2 separate regions of the Homo sapiens genome follow, and region 1 is linked to region 2. Evidence: fine-mapped expression QTL. A gene starts in region 2. The other region holds a variant in brackets. All regions are shown on one strand. Distances are between the middles of the regions.

Region 1 (5,330 bases), 34 kb before region 2:
GGGGAGAGGATGGTGGCCATGTGGAGGGGTCTGGTGAACTACTAGAATTGAGCTGAGGCAAAAAATTGACAGTCAACGGGCATCCAGACAGTGGATAATTAAAGCCACAAGCACTGCTGAGTTATATCTTGTATGTTACTTAAGATTAGATTTGACTGTGACTGACAAGAGGCCATGGTGTCAGAAGAGTTCATCAGAGGCTAAACCTCAGCTCCGGGGGAGTTAGGCCAAGACAGCAGTGACACAAATTCATTTATCTTGCATGAATTAAGTCTGGTGGTAGAGGCCATCTCTATCATGGCACTCCATGGTCATCTGGGACCCAGCCTCCTTCCCTCTTACTGCTCTGCCATCTTACCCCTTGACTTTGATTTCTGGACCCATGAGGTGATACAGCTGCAGCCCCCGCATAAGTGTTCTCACCCTTGGGAAGCAAGAAGGGGTATAGGATGCACACTTTCCCTTTAGAGACACTTTCTGGAAGTTGTACTGCTGCCTCATTGCGAGGGTGGTCTTGCAGCTAGCTGCCTGGTGTTTTTTTTCCTGTTGACTGTGTGCCAGCTGAAAATCAAAAGTCTTATTACTAAAAAAGAAGGGAGGGAATGGAGCTAGAGCAGTGTTTTTCAAATGGGGATGATGTTGCCTTCAGAGGACATTTGTCAATGTCTGGAGATATTTTTGTCACAAATGGGGACATTGCTACTGGCATTTAGTGGGTGGAGGCCAGAGATGCTGTTGAACACCCTACAATGCACAAGACAGCCTCCCCGACAACATCTTGGGGGCTCCTCATCCAAAATATCAGTAGTGCTGAGGTTGAGAAACCCTGACCTAGGTGGACAACGTATAGTCTCTTTGCCACAACCAGGACGGGGTGTAGAGTGAGTGGACTAGTCACCGTAGATGTGCAAAGACACCTGTCCCTGGCAGACCATAATGTCAGGAGAGTTCAGCAGCAGCCCAGACCTAGGCTCTGGGGTTTTATCAGATTTGTCCCAGCTTAGTGGGGCTCTTGTCCTCAAAGAGGCTTTGTTTTGTTTGTGTCTTTTTGTTTTATTCATTTCTGTTTTAAAAACTATTTTTATTTTTTGTAGGAATAGGGTCTCACTATTTTGCTCAGGCTGGGCCCTTGTTTTATTCATTTCTTGATGTTGAATTCTGAAGCAGAGACCCAGGTTGGAGCCTCAAGGAAGAGGCTTAAGATAGAGGCGGGCTGAGCTCCGTGGCTCATGCCTGTAATCCCAGCACTTCAGGAGGCCGAGGCAGGAGGAGCACCTGAGGCCAGGAGTTTGAGACCAGCCTGGGCAATGTAGCAAGACCCTGTCACTACAAAATATTACAAAATAATTAGCCAGGTGCAGTGGCATGCACCTGTAGTTCTAGCTTCTCAGGACACTGAAGTGAGAGGATCCCTTGAGCCCATAAGTCCCAGGTTACAGTGGGCTATGATCATGCCAACGCATTCCAGCCTGGGCAACAAAGCGAGACTCTGTCTCAAAACAAACAAACATATATATATGCATTTCTTTGCCCACTAGCCACACCCCTGAGCTGCAGGTAGGGGAAAGAGTCCAATAGTCTTGGTAGCCAGGGCCAAGTTCTGATTCAGTCCCTCAGAGTGTGACCCAATCAGGACTTCTCCTCAGCCTCCTGGCCACAAGCCGGGGCTGGGTGGCCAAGGTGAGGCCCTTGTGGCCTTGAATCCGCAGAGATGCCAAGGCAGCCTTGCCAGCTTTGCCCAAATTGCTGGGCTGGCCTTTCTGTGCTTCCTCCCTCCCAACCAGCCTTCCAGCCTAGTCAGCTTTTCTGGGCCCCTCCCACCTCCATTTCCTTCCAGCCTGTGGCCTTGGGTCTGAAGGGAAGCAGCCCTGCCCCAGCTGTGGCCAGCGCCAGGCCATGCTGAGGCTGAGGCCTGTGGGTCCCCAGAGTGCCCAGGGTGTGGTGTGGGTGAGAGTGTGCTGGTCAGTGGGATGAGGAGAGTGCAAACAGCTCTGTCTCTGGGGAAGGCCAGGGGAGAAGAATAGATCCCAAGTCATTCTGAACATTTGGGGTGCCTGCTATGGGTGAGCAAAAGTCTCCTCAGACTAAACAGCCCTCTTCTTTTCTCTGTGAAAAGGTTCCCCTTGAGAGGAATTTGTCTCAAAATCACCCCTCAGGCTTGGGCCAAGGTCAGTCTCTACAGTGGATCTGGGAGGCAGGGTTCCATGAACTCAGGAAGTATCTTCCAATTTGTTTCTGGAGGGCCAGAGGGACCCCGGAGTTTTTCAGCATTTTGAAATATACAAGATATTCAACAAGACTAGGTGGCAGATGGGACCAGATATGTGGCACAGACCTTTCAGCTCTGTGAGCTTTGACAAGTCGCCTAAC[T/C]TCTGCTCTTCAGTTACCTCATCAGTTAAACGAGGAGAATTGTGCCCACCTGAGAGCTTGGAGATTAAATAGGATCACGCATGCGTGGCACCTGGACGATGCCCACCCAGTACCCACGGGAGGCCCTCAGGAAGCAGTGGCTGTTACTATCATTGTATCATCACTCTGTCTCTCAGAAGAGCCTTTTCCTTTCTTTCTTTCTTTCTTTTTTTTTTTTTTGAGATGGAGTTTTGCTCTTGTTGCCCAGGCTGGAGCACAACGTTGCGATCTTGGCTCACTGCAACCTCGGCCTCCCAGGTTCAAGCGATTCTCCTACCTCAGCCTCCTGAGCAAGGAGAGCCTTTTTACTCTTTTTCAGAAAGTCCTCCCTACAGCCACCTCTTTCTGTAGCTCTGACCAAAGAAAGTCTAAGGTGAAGGGACCCCAGTAACCTACACTTTACAGGTGGAGAGGCAAGAGAAGGGACTTGCCCAAGGCCACCTGGGGTGCCTGTGGCAGGGCATCAACAAGCTCGGGTCACTGCAGCATTCTTCTCCCCACCCTCTTCCCATTCAGGAAAGAAGGCCAGTCCTGTCATTTGTGCTGTTGTCTCAGACACCAAAAGGCTGTTTTCCTTCTGTCCAGCTCAGCATCGATGCCTGGAATCAGGAAGCAGGGTGATGGAAAGTGTCCTGTCTGACGTCTTCCTGCGGAGGGGGGACGGCATCCTCACAGGCTGGGCTTCCTGAAATACAGCTGTGGCAGCAGCTTCAGGATTTGGCAGAACATTTAACATTATTATTATCATTATTTTTGAGACAGAGTCTCACTCTGTTGCCCAGGCTGGAGTGCAGTGGCGCAGTCTCGGCTCACTGCAACCTCCGCCTCCCGGGTTCAAGCGAGTCTCCTGCCTCAGGCTCCCAAGTAGCTGGGATTACAGGTGCGTGTCACCACGCCCGGCTAATTTTTGTGTTTTTAGTAGAGACTGGGTTTCGCCATGTTGACCAGGCTGGTCTTGAACCAGCGATCTACACACCTTGGCCTCCCAAAGTGCAGAGATTACAGGTGTGAGTAACTTCGCCCAACCAACAATTGGATACTTTTCAGTACTATTTGAATTATTATTATTTGCCATACACATAAGTTAAATCTATTAATAAAATAGTCAGGCCAGGCGCGGTGGCTCACGTCTGTAATCCACCTGACCTCAGGTGATCCACCCACCCTCGGCCTCCCAAAGTGCTGGGATTATAGGCGTGAGCCACTGTGCCTGGCCTAACATTATTTTTTAAAAGACCGAGTATTGGGAATAAGGTGAGGAGGGAGGAGAGATGGGGTAGATGAAAGGAAACAAACTTTTCCAGCAGAGAATAACTAGAGTTACTCTAGAAATGCTAAATAAAAAAATAGAGCATGAGTGTGTTATTTACAGTCAGGGAGAGGATTCACAGCAGTGAAAAATTATTCACTTTTTTTTTTTTTTTTTTTTTTTTTTTAGTTTCCTACACTACATGGATATAAAAATCATTCACTATTAACATAGTTACTTCTGGGTAGTGGTTCTGGAGGTAGGATAATTTAATTTTTAATTGGATACTTTTCTTTCTTCTTTTCTTTTTTCTTTGAGAAAAGGTATCTGTTGCCCAGGCTGGAGTGCAGTGCACCATCACTGCTCACTGCAGCCTCCACTTCCCAGGCTCAATCGATCCTCCCACCTTAGCCTCCTGAGTAGCTGGGACAATAGGCAAATGCCACCACATTCATCTAATTTATTGTATTTTTTGTAGAGATGGAGTCTCTATAAAAGTTGCCCAGGCTGGTCTTAAACTCTTGAGCTCAAGCGATCTACCCACCTTGGCCTCCCAAAGTGCAGAGATTACAGGTGTGAGTGACTTCGCCCAACCAACAATTGGATACTTTTCAGTACTATCTGAATTATTATTATTTGCCATACACATAAGTTACATCTATTAATAAAATAGTCAGGCCAGGCGCGGTGGCTCATGCCTGTAATCCAGCTACTTGGGAGGCTGAGGCAGGAGAATCACTTGAACCCGGGAGGCAGAGGTTATAGTGAGCCAAGATCGCGCCATTGCACTCCAGCCTAGGCAACAAGAGCGAAACTCCGTCTCAAATAAACAAATAAATAGGCCGGGCGCGGTGGCTCACGCCTGTAATCCCAGCACTTTGGGAGGCCGAGGCAGGCAGATCATGAGGTCAGAAGATCAAGACCATCCTGGCTAACATGGTGAAACCCCATCTCTACTAAAAATACAAAAAATTAGCCGGGCGTGGTGATGGGTACCTGTAGTCCCAGCTACTTGGGAGGCTGAGGCAGGAGAATGGCGTGAACCTGGGAGGCGGAGCTTGCAGTGAGCCGAGATCGTGCCACTGCACTCCAGCCTGGGCAACAGAGCGAGACTCCGTCTCAAAAAATAAATAAATAAACAAATAAATAAATAAAAATAGTGCTGAGCTCGGAGGCAGGTGGGAACTACTTTTGTCTCTAGACTCATTGAATGTGACCCAGGTAGTCCTTGGTCAGTCTAATAGGGAATTCTGTGTCAGTCAAATTTCAGCTAGACCCTCCTCCTGTCCCCTCAAGACCCAGTTAAGATTGGCTCCAGAAAATTTTTAAAAAGTGGCCCTAGACTATTCAATAAATAGAGTTAGAAATTTGGTTACCCGTTCGAAAAAGAAAAAAGAAATCTTTACCTCACACTATCCACAAAAAATCAACTCTAGATGGATCAATAACTCAAAAAGTTAAAGTTAAAACCTTTAGGCCAGGCACAGTGGCCTATACCTGTAATCCCAGAACTTTGGGAGGCCAAAGTGGGAGGATCATTTGAAGCCAGGAATTCAAGACCAGCCTGGGTAACACAGCAAAACGTCATCTCTACAAGAAATACAAAAATTAGCTGGGCGTGATGGCACGTGCTTGTGGTTCCAGCTACTCGGGAGGCTGAGGGAGGATCACT
Region 2 (5,355 bases):
CATGCACAGTTCACAATAGGGTTCACCCTTCTATGAGAATCTAATGCCACCACTGATCTTTCAGGATGCGGAGCTCAGGTGGTAATGCTCGCTCTCCTGCTGCTCACCTCCTGCTGTGTGGCCCAGTTCCTAACAGGCCATAGACCAGTACTAGTCTGAAGCCTGGGGGTTGGAGACCCCTGGGATTAGGGATCTGTGATAGTAATTTGCCTTACACAGTTGCGGAAGGACCAGAAGGGGAGTTGGGGATCAGAGGAGTCCTTAGTCAGTCATCTGAGAAACCAAGTATGTCCAGCTGCTAAAATGGAACCACAAGGGAAAGCTCCTGGGGAGGTCTATGGGTGGTACTAATGCCCTGGGTCTGCAGCCAAGTCCGCGATGGCCTGGGGCCACTGTTGGTCAGCAGGCTCAGCAGCTGGGAAGAAAAGCTGGATGTGGAGTGAAGGAGAGTGACAGCAGGCTGGAAGCCAGTGGTGCCCTCTTCATCCATCACCACAGCTGACTATGACAACCTTCAGAGACTTAACTTTGAAACATGTAAATACTTTACATAATTGTAAAGCAAAATTAACATTTAAAAATATCAAAAAACAAAAGCAAAACAAAATAAATAAACCATGCATGTTGAGTTGGTGGCATAACCACATAAAGAACTATTCCAAGTGACTAAAACAGTAACGTGACACTATGCCCCTAGTGGGATGTACATGTGACAAAAGCTTTACAAAAAACATTTAAACTGTTTTCAGGAATAATATCTTTGGCTAGGCGTGGTGGCCAAGCACTTTGGGAGACCTAGGTGGGTAGATCACCTGAGGTCAGGAGTTCGAGGCCAGCCTGGCCAACATGGTGAAACCCCCGTCTCTACTAAAAATACAAAAATCAGCCGCGTGTGGTGGCACACACCTGTAGTCCCAGCTACTTGGGAGGTTTAGGCATGAGAATCGCTTGAACCTGGGAGGCAGAGGTTGCAGTGAGCTGAGATTACGCTACTGCACTCCAGCTTGGGCAACACAGTGAGACTCTGTCTTAAAAAAAAAACAAAAACAAAAAGGGGGGGGTGCGGCGCAGTGGCTCACACCTGTAATCCCAACACTTTGGGAGGCCAAGGTAGGTGGATCACCTGAGGTCAGGAGTTCAACACCAGCCTGACCAACATAGTGAAACCCCATCTCTACTAAAAATACAAAATTATCCAGGTGTGGGGGCGAGTGCCTGTAATCCTAGCTACATGGGAGGCTGAGGCAGGAGAACTGCTTGAACCCAGGAGGCAGAGGTTGCAGTGAGCCGAGATCATACCACTGTACTCCAGCCTGGGCGAAAGAGTGAGACTCTGTCTCAGAAAAAAAAAAATCATATCTTTGATTATTATGTTGGAATTGTTATTTTGAGACCATTTTGAGGGGTTGGCTCAGGGCTCATTAATTGTTAGCTGTTATCATTATGTTATTTTTCAAAGGCCATTCCAAATACCTCCTTCTTCAGGAAGCCTTCTTGAACTATATTCTAAGGACTAATGACTGAAAGATGCTCTTCCTCCTTTGATCCCCAAAGTAGTAGTAACTACACCTATCATGGCTTTGCTGGCTTCTTGCCTTGGGATAGAGATGCCTGAGACCCCATTATCCCTAAATTCAAAGAAGCTGTAAATGCCTTTAAGGCAAAAAGGACATGGACATCCCCCAAGGGTCTGAAGTGCAACCCATTCTGGTGTATTTAATGTGTATCTTTTTGTTTCTATGTGTCTTTGCAAGTCTGTGTTGTTTGATGTAAATGCATTTGTAATATTTTTATTGATATTGTTTCCTAGGTCTTATTTGGTTTGGTTATTTACTTTTTCTGCCTAGCACTAGGTGTTTAAATCCATATTGCCACGAATACAGCGGGTCCCTTGCTTTGAGTGCTGCACAGTTTATCCATCTGCTCTTACAAGAAAGGGCGCTTAGATTGTCTCCAACTCCCAGCAACCACAGCAACACAGCAACCAACATCCTCCTACATGTCCCTTTATGGGCCTGATAAATCTTTCTGAACACTGATAAATCCGACCATCTCTTCATATGCTTGCAGACCTGCTGAGGTTGTGGTCCCTTAAACGCCAGCTCACATCTTTGGGGTTTGACTTTCTGCGCCTGAGGCGGCGGGCCCAAGGCTCAGCCCTCCTCCCCGAGTCCCGAGAGGCGCGAGGAGGATGAGCCTGCCAGATGCCTTGTGCGCATCTATCTCCAGGGCCGGGGAGGCTGGGCGAACTCCCGGGGAGGAGACTGGGTCAGGGACACCTGCGGAACTCGGCGTGGCCCCGACCCGCCGGCCTCGGGCGCGGAGGGGTGGGCAGGTTAAGAGAGCAGGAGGAGGGACCTGCGTCCTGGTCCGGGACTGGGGTGGCCGGGGCAGCTGCGCTCCTAGCAGGCGGGGCGTGGAGTCTGGAGGAGCGACCGCCCCGTCCTCTCGGCTCCCCGGGCCCCGCCCCGGCGGACGCGCGCCTCGCGCCCGGGCACCAGCGCGCGCAGGGGCTGCGGAGCGGCAGGATGCAGGAGGAGCTGGCGTGGGAGACCGACGGCCGTGAGTCTGCCTGGAGGAGGGAGGGGGGCGGGCCGAGGCCGAGAGGACCCCCGCATCCGTTTGGGGAGTGCCAGGGGTGAGGTTGGCGCCCTCCGAACGGCCACCTCCGTGTGGGGCGTCTGTGTGGCTCCGAGCGGAATGGTTACCGGTCCGCGCACTGGGCCGAGGGGACCTTGCCAGTGCGTCTGGGACTCGGGGACCACACCCGCCAGGTGAGCGGGGAGCAGCGGCTGAGAGGTTAGCTACAAATAATAAAGGTAATAGCGATCCTTGACTGCGTGCTGTACTTTGTGTGCCAGGCCTTGACCCAGGAGAGGCACGTCATTTGATCTTCGCTGCGGCCATATGGGTAGGACATTATGTTATCTTCATTTCGCAGATGAGAAACTGAGGCACAGGGTGTTCAAATGAGTTGTTCAAGGTCACACAGCCATTGAGTGGTAGAAGTGCTGAAGGGCCCAGCTCACCCGGAATGCTGGGGCTGGATAGCGAGTGGAGACCGCATCAGATGGGGCACGCACTCAGAGGAGAGGAGCCTGACTGGCCACAGGTGGAATGAGGGCACCTCCGAACCTCCCTCAAGGAGTGCGCCCAGTGCCAGGGCCTCTAGGCCGGGCAGCAGCGTCTGTGTGGGCATCAGCTGGCCTGGGGCAGCTTTGGCTGCACCGTCTGGGAGAGGGGAGAGAAAGATTGTGTCGGTGTCTGCACTGTGAGTCCTTGATCCTGCAGCCCTGGCTGAATCCTGACAGCTGAATCCCGGGGCTTTCCCTCAAAAGCGCATAGTGCAGCTCACTGGATTCCTTTGAGACCTATAGTGTCCAAAATGCTGGCACACTGCATCTACTCAGCTGAGGGATGTGTTGGGGGTGGGAATGCTCAATCAAGATTAGGTACATGGTTCTGCCTGGGGCGGAGGATCACTTGAGTGGGCCTGCGAAGAATGTGTACCAATGGAGCATTGGGGTGTGTGGCAGAGAATTCTGGACAAAGACCCAGCATGGGCAAAGGCTCAGGTAGCTCAGTGGGTATTGGATGTGGCCAGAAAGAGGGTGCCGGATGGGAGGTGGATGGAAGAGATGAGACTGGACTTGATTTCATTCTAACTTAACCTTCTCTGGCCTGACCCTATGCAGTGTCTGCTGGCTTCCCATTGGAACTCCTGGCTGTTTGCCAATACAAACCAGGCCAATCCCCCTAAGCTGCACATAAGATAGAGGGTGCCAGACAGGAAGGGACCTATACAGATCTCTTTCTTCACCCTCCCCCAGTTTTACAATGGAAGAAACAGACCTACAAGGGGGATGTGACTAGCCCAGGATCCTGCTGCTGGAAAGTGGCAGGGAAGGTACTAGAACCCAGGCCTCTGTAAGCTCACATCTGAAGTGGCAGCTCTCTTTGGCTACCAGAATTTGACCCTTTGCCTTGGAGGAATAATAGTGATGATGATGGTGGTGGTGGTGGCGGTGTGGTCATTATGTGCCAGACACTGTGCCAGGGGGTTTTCATATCTCATTTCTAATCATGATATTAACCTTGTAGGGAAGCTCGCACTCCTGTTTTGCAGATGAGGAAACTGCCTAACACAGCTAGGAAGTGGTTAAGCCAGAGTTGAACCCAGGACTGTGTGATTGCCCCCCAGGGTAGCAACTCTGAGATCCACAGGTTGTATCCATGAGGCCCCAGAAAGCTCAAGATCCTCTTTCTCATCTGGAGAAGACTGTGTGGAATTTATCTAGAAAAACAAACTGCATGGCAGGCCTGTCTCTCACCTCAGTGCATCTTAGCCTTCCCTACCAAGACACTCGTCACCTGTCCCTGGATACACAAAGGGGCTGGGTTCAGACATTCATACTGGACCAAACATGCAGGCTATGGGGTCACTTGCCCTGCAGTGACTATGGAAAGGGCCAGCAAATATTTGTCTCTGTGCTAGTATGTGTGAGCACTTTGGGAGAGGGGACAGGCATCTATTCGTCTGGGGATTGTTGGTGTCACTCATACAAGCAGAGATTTTTTTGTTTCTGTTTTCTTTTTTTTTTTTTGAGATGGAGTCTCGCTCTGTCACTAGGCTGGAGTGCACTGGCATGATCTCGGCTCACTGCAACCTCCAGCTCCCAGGTTGAAGCAATTCTCCTGCCTCAGCCTTCCGAGTAGCTGGGACTACAGGTGTGTGCCACCATGCCCAATTAATTTTTGTATCTTTAGTAGAGACGGGGTTTCACCATGTTGGCGAGGATGGTCTTGATCTCCTGACCTCGTGATCCATCCACCTCGGCCTCCCAAAGAGCTGGGATTACAGGTGTGAGCCACTGCACCCAGCCTGTTTTTGTTTTCTTTTTAGAGACAGGGTCTCACTCTGTTGCCCAGGCTGGAGTGCAGAGGTGCAATTATAGCTCATTGGCAGCCTCAAACTCCTGGGCTCAAGCAAGCCTCTTGCCTTAGCTTCTTGAGTAGCCGGGACTACAGGCATGTGCCACCACACCTGGCTAATTTTTAAAAAAACTTTTTTGTAGAGATGGAGGTTTTGCTTTTTAGCCCAGGCTGGTCTTGAACTCCTGGCTTCAAGCCATCCTCCTGCCTTGGCCTCCCAAAGTGCTGGGATTGCACGCATGAGCCACCATGCCTGGCTCAAAAGCAGAGTTTTGTGGGTTCCTCCTGTGCCCACCTTTGGGCCTGCTGTGAGCTGTGGGTGGATCAGGAAGGGTCAAGTGTGGCCAGGGCCTCCAAAATACTTGAAGTCTAGCCATGGAGACTAGACATCCTCACAATCAAGAGCCGTCAGGATGATGGCAG

Direction of the effects. Alleles are on the strand shown, and positions count from the first base shown. SD is a standard deviation of normalised expression in the study named.
For the expression in regulatory T cells of the gene that starts at base 2,500 in region 2, allele T in region 1 goes with a higher level than allele C (large effect, 1.2 SD a copy in Bossini-Castillo 2019).

What was found. PIP is the estimated chance that this variant, and not a neighbour inherited with it, causes the effect. A credible set is the group of variants that fine-mapping cannot tell apart.
Region 1: its variant is the best candidate, but not a certain one, in a credible set for the expression of ANKDD1A in regulatory T cells (Bossini-Castillo 2019, PIP 0.67).

Annotation. Positions count from the first base shown.
Region 1 is chr15:64,875,868-64,881,197 of GRCh38, forward strand. No RefSeq gene overlaps it. Among named protein-coding and RNA genes, the nearest start is that of ANKDD1A, 33 kb to the right of the region's middle. The variant T/C (reference allele first, on the strand shown) is at 2,371.
Region 2 is chr15:64,909,403-64,914,757 of GRCh38, forward strand. It overlaps ANKDD1A (ankyrin repeat and death domain containing 1A), which reads left to right and starts at 2,500. Exons shown (of 15, transcript NM_182703.6): 1 at 2,500-2,562. The coding sequence starts at 2,529. RefSeq lists silencers at 1,728-2,022, 2,096-2,145, 2,346-2,525 and an enhancer at 2,712-3,255.